Homo sapiens: one gene and its partner. The protein of the gene in region 2 purifies or fractionates together with the protein of the main gene of each other region. This does not show direct contact. Each region holds a gene or a part of one and is shown on either strand. Other genes may lie near its edges. The genes, in order: RPIA and TRPV5.

Evidence for each region.
Region 1: the proteins of TRPV5 (region 2) and RPIA purify together in Homo sapiens (affinity purification with mass spectrometry; 2 studies listed by BioGRID and IntAct, with this or other methods). This does not show direct contact.

The regions. Positions count from the first base shown.
Region 1 is NC_000002.12:88,690,173-88,693,772, reverse strand, and holds the start of RPIA (ribose-5-phosphate isomerase), read right to left. Parts: upstream 2,101-3,600; 5' UTR 2,075-2,100; coding exon 1,790-2,074; intron 1-1,789. UniProt on the Homo sapiens protein: Catalyzes the reversible conversion of ribose-5-phosphate to ribulose 5-phosphate and participates in the first step of the non-oxidative branch of the pentose phosphate pathway.
Region 2 is NC_000007.14:142,931,368-142,935,487, reverse strand, and holds the start of TRPV5 (transient receptor potential cation channel subfamily V member 5), read left to right. Parts: upstream 1-1,741; 5' UTR 1,742-2,028; coding exon 2,029-2,156; intron 2,157-4,120. UniProt on the Homo sapiens protein: Constitutively active calcium selective cation channel thought to be involved in Ca(2+) reabsorption in kidney and intestine. Required for normal Ca(2+) reabsorption in the kidney distal convoluted tubules.

The DNA of each region.
Region 1 (3,600 bases), on a different chromosome or scaffold from region 2:
TGGACTAGAGAACAGGAAGCCCTACTCCCCAGAGATTCTACACAAAGAACCTCCAATAACCCCAACACTTTCGTATTTGTGTCCACACTGCACACAATTGAACAAACATGTACTGGGCAGGACCCACTGTGACCAATGCTAAATGAAGGTTAACTACCCTCCAGGAGCTTACCCTTTAAGGGGCTGGAAGAAACGAACACACAGATGACCAAAACATGAGATACAACATAAAGCACATAAGAGGCATGAAGTGCTACAGAATCACGGAAGAGAAATCTTCCTCTCCTTAGGATGCTAAGGAAAAACTGAAAGGAGGAAATGGCCTTTAAGCCAAACCCTGAAGGGCATATATGATTTTAACAGGTGCCCCCAAAAGGTCACTGTAGATCTCCCCAAAATTACCTAACTTCATGAAATGATGTGGTCAGAATCCAGTGTTTTGGGGCTCTAGCCTAAGGTCAGGGCTTGCAGATTTTTATTTAATCAAATACATGACTATAACACAAAGGTCAGGGAGATGCGCCACCAAATATTAATGTAAATTCATTAACAGGACAACTTAGATATGGGGCTTTTCTAATTGTATTCTCATGTGGATTACATTTATCTATTAGCTATTCACTGTATGCAGATATTTTGAAATTTCAGCTTATTGTCTCAATTTTACAACGGAGGCACTGAATCCCAAAGGTAGGGTCAAATTAACACATTTTACATTATCTCTGTTAATCCCCATAGAAAATCCTATTGCCAATCAGACTTACAACAAGCTACACCAGAACAGGGTAGCAGTGGAAAGAGTAGAAGGTCACACTGGAACATCCCTTCTACAGAACTGGCTGAGCCACAGGTTACCACATTGTCCACTCCCACTCAAACAGGCTGTGGTGAAGCTCATCCAACATCATCTAAGCAAAATAATTTTGTAAAGCATTAACAAATGTAAAGAACTATTATCGGAGAAGAAAAGAGACTCTAATACCACTTTCTAATAAGTAGAAACGAGAGATAAAAAGCCAATAAGACCAAGGAAACTACACCACAGGGCAGACATACTCCACTTGGCTTCCTTATTATAATTAAGATACTTGATTGGTGACAGCAAAACCACTTGGATTAAAAAAACTCCACTAACAGCACCACACCTGCCACTTAACAAACAAGTAGGGACCACGACCTGACTGAATAACAGCTAAACATCTCTGCAGACCCGCCTTAAAAAATAAACCAGCATCCTCCAGACTTAGTCCACCCAGCCCTATGGAAAGAAGGAAGTTTGAAGCCCCGGGTCTTCCCTTCCCTCCAAGAGTACACTCAGGGGCCGGCGCGCACCAAGCCCAGAACCTCCTTCGACTGAAATTTCAAAGCACTAGCAAACCAACTCTCCGCCGGCTTCCGGGTCAGTAAAGAGAAATGAAAACCTCTCCGCAGCCCCAAAGCCCACCATTTTCCATTTATTGATAAGGAGGCCACAAGGCAAGTGCCTCTAGCCCCCATTCCAAACATCAGACAGCACCAGGCTCCACTTTGCAAACTGTTCCAGCTGGACAAGGAGTCTTTAGAAAGCTCAAGTATTAGAAGATTCGCCCCCAACCGATTCCACATCTAAAAGGTCTTTAAGGAGCAGGGAAGAGGGGTCTAAACTCGGGTAAAGTGCACACCCTCTACCCTCTCACTCAGCTCCCGCCCTGCCAGGAGCTAGGCGCGCCCCGGCAGCACCCACAACGCGCAACAGTAGCCCATCACGCCAAGGACATGCGCCCCGCGCCCCACGTTTCGAAGTGCTCACCCTCACGTGGTTCTCCACAGCCGCGCGGCCCGCCAGCTTCTTGGCCTCCTCGGCCTTGGACATCGTGGAGGGGGCCGGGCAGATGCTGTTGGAGTCCCCGCAGCTGGTGCTTGTGTTGCCAGCACCGCCACGGGTCCCAGACTGTGCACGCCCCGGCAGCCGCACGTGGGAACCCGGGAGGTCCCAGCTGTTCCCTCCTCCGCCGGAGGCCGCGCCCCCGGCCCTCCCGGGCAGCGGGGCCAAGACCCGCCCGTAGAGGGTGCTGAAGGGCCCGGGGCGCTGCATCCCGACGCCTCGCTCCGGCCTCCGCTGAAGTCCCGCCCCCGGCTCCCCCGGAAATCTGGTCGCTTACGCACACAGTCTGCGTGCCCTGCTGCGCGGGTCTTGCTGGGAAATGTAGTTCTGTGGCTTCGAGGAACCCCTATCTGCGCCTCAGTCTGGACTACCAATCCCATAATGCTCTCCGCGACGGAATGCGCAATCGCCGGCGACGGGCTCCGGCACTTCGCTCTGTGAAGTACCATTAGCCGCGGGAATATCAGTATGGTGACTCCTTACCCTGGGGAAGTGTACTTAGGCCACGGCTAGGTGAAGCCCAGGGATATTTCTGTTCGCCCATGCATCCGAGAAAGGAGTGTTAGACCTGACCCTGTTGTTTCTCCCAGCAGTGAGAACGTGGCCATGGACAAGAATTCCAAGTAGTGGCACTTCTGTAGACGACGCGGCCCTTTTGGGGTTACTACAGCCCAGGAAACTCACATGCGACACGGCGCCAGCTGAAGTCCATCTAGACCCCCGCAGACCCAAGGTCACAAGTTGAGAACCCCCTGCCGTGGACATTCTTCTGCACCTAGTGGTGAAGCAGGTGGAGCTGCACCTTGCTCCGCCCATTTGGAGACTGGTTCTGCACATATGAGTGTGCCCTGCAGCGATCCTGCAATCCTTCGTGACTAACAAGGACTTTCTGTGAAAACAGATTTATCTTTTCTTCTCTACCTTTAAGGTTTCTTGCTGTTGAGAATAGTTAAGGGACGAGGAATTCTTATTGCCCCCATTTTACAGGCAAAGAAACTAATGCTGACCCCAACCTTACCGACCACTTGGAGGTCCCTAAAAACACATGACCTTTGTGTTTCTCGGCTGTTAGTGGAATCCTTTCTGTCTGCTCATGAACTCATCTTCAAACGCATTCCAGGCCTTCAGAACTCTTCCGTGAGCGCAAGTCACTGGTATGGGCCACTGTTAACTGCCGGTTATCACCTAGATTTTCTTAACTATGCTTTGCCCTCTGAGGCCGTGAGCTCTTGAATCTTCACCTTAGTCTGTAGGAGGAAAAGTTGTTTGAGATGATATTTGAATCCTTCATTTTAGGCCAAATTCAGAACATAGCAAAAGGTTCTGGCTAACATGCAGAACAGTATGTCTGGACTCCCACTACTGTTGGTCTGCAAAGTTGAAGGCTACTCTAGGCAAATATGTCACCTTTAATGTATCTCCTTAGGAGGAGTCTTTCACCTTATTCATGCTCCTCAGCACCCACACCAAAAGATTCATGAAGTAAATGTTACCTAGTCTCTGCTTTACCCCATTACCCCCGGCCTGAGGACCTTTGAACCATTTTAAATGCTCTACCTGCCAGCCTGGCCATCTGTGCATTGCTTGCTCCATCCACCCTTCTGACTCAGCTGAAATACCACCTTCCCAAAGAAGTCTAAGTGACCACCTCATCTAAATTGGGTTTCCTGCCCACCCCTCCTCTATCACTTTGCGCATGGTTGTATTTCTATCACAGAACTTCCGTCCATCATTCG
Region 2 (4,120 bases):
GAATTGAACAATGAGAACACTTGGACACAGGAAGGGGAACATCACACACCAGGACCTGTCGTGGGGTTGGGGGAGGGGGGAGGGATACATTAGGAGATATACCTAATGTAAATGACAGTTAATGGGTGCAGCACACCAACATGGCACATGTATACATATGTAACAAACCTGCATATTGTGCACATGTACCCTAGAACTTAAAGTATAATAATAAAAAAAATGAGAACATAAATACAAGCTATCATATACAGTAGTCACCTTTTATCCTCAGGGGATACATTCCAAGACGCCCCAGTGGATGCCAGGAACCTTAGATAGCACCAAACCCTGTATATACTATCTTTTTTCCTACACGTACATACATACATACATACATACATACATACATACATACATACATACATATGATGAAGTTTAATTTATACATTAGGCACAGTGAAGAGTTTAGGCCGGGCATAGTGACTCACGCCTGTAATCCCAGCACTTCAGGAGGCCGAGGCAAGCAGATCACCTGAGGTCAGGAGTTCGAGACTAGCCTGGCCAACATGGTAAAACCCTGTCTCTACTAAAAATACAAAAATTAGCCAGGCGTGGTGGTGGGCACCTGTAATCCCAGCTACTAGGGAGGCTGCGGCAGGAGAATAACTTGAACCTGGAAGGTGGATGTTGCAGTGAGCCAAGATCACACCATTGCTCTCCAGCCTGGGCAACGAAAGTGAAACTCTGTCTCAAAAAAAAAAAAAAAAGAGTTTAACAACAATAAAATGAAAATTATAATAATATAAAGTTATGTGAATGTTCTCTTTCTCTCTGTCTCTCAAAATATGTTATAGTACTGTACTCACCTATTTTCCAACTGTGGCTGACCTTAGGTAACTGAACCATCAGAGAGTGAAACTGTGGATAAGGGAAACTACTTAATATATAAAATATAATATAAAATATATAAAATAGTGCAACATTACTTATTCCTCCTGGTGTTTCATTCCTGGAAAGAGTCCCAAACATGGAATCACGATTTATTTGTCGTCTACCTTTGCTCAGTTTCTGCTGTTCAACCTCCATAATAACTCGAGGCCCCTGGGGGCTCCTCTGACCTGCGTCCCCAGGTACCAGAGCCTGCTCGGCGACGCTCCAGGAAGCTGGCCGGTCACGGTCATGAGGACTTCTCACAGAGAGGGATTGGCCTGGGAAGTGGGGGTCAGAAACCCTCCTTTGAGGTACAGGGTTGAGGACAGAGATGACCACAAGACACATAAATGGGAAGCTCTGAGAAGCAGCCCGGGGGTCTCTTGAGCCCTCTTGTGGAAGGAGGATCGGCAGTGATTGAGTACTTGTGACACATGCTTTACAGATGCTCCCGTGAGACGGCATAGCCGTTACCCCAATTTCACAGGTTAGGAACTGAGGCTCAGAAAGCTCACCTAACTGTAAGGGATAAGAGTCAGGATTTGAACCAGGCTCTGCCTGACTCTTGAGCTGGAAGTCTTTATTTCCTCCTCTCCCTCATGCAACTAACTGTGCACCTTGTTTGTGGACCCACCTTCCATCCCTTTTCTTTTTCCAAATTCCTCTGCCCCACCTCTTAGCTTCTCGGGTCTCAGCCATCCCAGCCCACAGTTAGGAACCTTCCTTCCCCTCCTCCTTTTCTTCCCCAGGGTGGTTCTGTGGCTGTGGGGCTCAGCTCTGCAAAGAGCTCCTCCCCCTCCAGGAAAAGCACTTCTCCCCAGGCAGGGCGGTCAGTCCCCTCAGCGCACCTGCATGCACACACACCACCTCACAACCACACACTGCATGCACACACATACACCACAGCCACACACTGTGCATACACGCACACCCCACAACCCACATACTGCATGCACACACACACACCTACAAGCTGCATGCTGCATACACAAGTCATACAGGAGATAAACTCAGAGTCCCAGCCCCAAATAGACCCCATCTCTTGCTCAGTTGCTGTCATCCTAGACCTGTTTCTTTCGCCACATTTCTATAATCTGCCAGTGTCTGCAAGGAGAAGACATGGGGGGTTTTCTACCTAAGGCAGAAGGGCCCGGGAGCCAACTCCAGAAACTTCTGCCCTCCTTTCTGGTCAGAGAACAAGACTGGGACCAGCACCTGGACAAGCTTCATATGCTGCAGCAGAAGAGGTAGGCTTCCTAGAACGATCCGTGGCCCTACCGCCGTGATCCTCAGACCCTCTGACCCACCTGGGCCTGCTTTCCGAATACAGCACCCTAGAAGTGTATTGTCAGTGCCAGTCACTCAGACATACCCTTTCCTTCCAGCCCACCTAATTACAGAATCCCAGCTGGCCCCTTTTAGTGGCGGTGGAGGATGTGGCTTTGGGCCACACAGGAAAATCTTGAGGGTAGACCTAAGGACAGAGGCAGAATGACAGCCAAGGGGGAGTGAAAGGACCAAAAAGGACCAGAGGGAAGAAGCCAGGTTGTGTGGGATGGGGAGGGAAGGCAGAAGCAGGCTGCTGAAGAAGGGATGCACTCCTGTGGGTGGTGGAAGCACGATAAGGAAACGCCATTCATTTGAATGAAAGTGGACTGTGTGGGAAAGGGGAGGAGCGCTTTGTTTGGTGTAACACTGGGTGCTGACCAGTGGAGGAGGGCAGCTCAGGTGACACTGGAGGGCTCTGAGTTCAGTCCATCTGCCTTTTATTGAGTCTACTGTGTGCAGAGGGGTGTTAGATCCCAATGACATAAAGATTGAATGAGACTTGTGCCTGCTCCTGGAGAGCTCTTAGTTCGGGCAGGGCTAGCACACCTGCAGGTAAATCATTTCATGGCTTAGCCCTGAGGTCCAGTCCCAGGAAGAGCAGCTGGGGCAGGGACGAATCCTGTGGGCTGCTTCTTCCTCCAAGTGTTTTGGGGCTTGCCTCCCACCCAACAGCTGCCTGAGGGGTGAGGTTGTTGAGCAGACATTAGCAGTCACAAAGGGCTCCCCTGTACTCCAGAAGATTCCTGTGCTTTGTTCAATGCCCTGCTGTCCTCATCTTCAAGTTCTTAATAATTTTGAACAAGGGGTCCTGCATTTGCAGTTTACACTGGGCCTGGTCCCAAGTACCTCTGAGCCCTCATACTGTCAAGCCCTCTGCTTCCTCATCTCCCCACCCAATACCTCCAGTGGAATCTCACCTTCCTGCTTTAGAGTGGGACCCCTGGGTCTCTGAGAAAGTGAGCTTCCAGCCCCAACTTGGACCCTCTGCAGAGGGGCAGTGGGGATAGAGGGCCAGGGAGGCAAGGACTTTGTTTGTGCAGTGGCCTCAGGATGGGGGTGAATTTGCAATCTCAGCCCTGACCACTCTAGGCTGGTCAGGGACACCAGGCTCCCTGGGACTGATTCCCTGGGTGAGACGGGGCAGGGAACTGACTCCTCACAAAGGCCCCTCCTAGGAGCACTGCCTTAACAGGTAAAACCAGGCCCCACCTTTAGATTAAAAGCTTCTTCTTTAAATGAAAACACTTTGGCTGGGCGTGGTGGCTCACACCTGTAATCCCAGCACTTTGGGAGGCCGAGATGGGTGGATCACCTGAGGTCAGGAGTTCGAGAGCAGCCTGGCCAACATGCTGAAACCCCGTCTCTACCAAAAATAAAAAAACTAGTCAGGCATGGTGGTGGGCACCTGTAGTCCCAGCTACTCGGGAGGCTGAGGCAGGAGAATCACTTGAACCCAGGAGGCGGAAGTTGCAGTGAGCCGAGATCGCACCACTGCACTCCAGTCTGGGCAATAGAGTGAGACTTCGTCTCAAAAAAAATAAATAAATAAAATAAAAACACTTTTTCGCCCTGGCTCCTGGGGCTATTGGAAGAGAGGGATTTGGAGGTGGGGACCTCAGAGGAGCCACTCATCGGCCTGTCCTTTCTGTTCTTCCCCCTACACCATGTGCTTGCCTTTGGGGCCAATACACATATGTCTAGTTGGAGAGGCTCCAGCTTTATCTCTTTCTGGGTTCAAATCTGGGTATGGTAGAAGCAAAGATTAACAGAGGTCCTGTAGAATGAGTATCTCAACCTGTTTTGCCTTGAGACACCCACATAAACAAGCTGTTTAGACCTTTGCATCTAAGGGTATAATGCAGAAGAAAGAGGCACCCTGTAA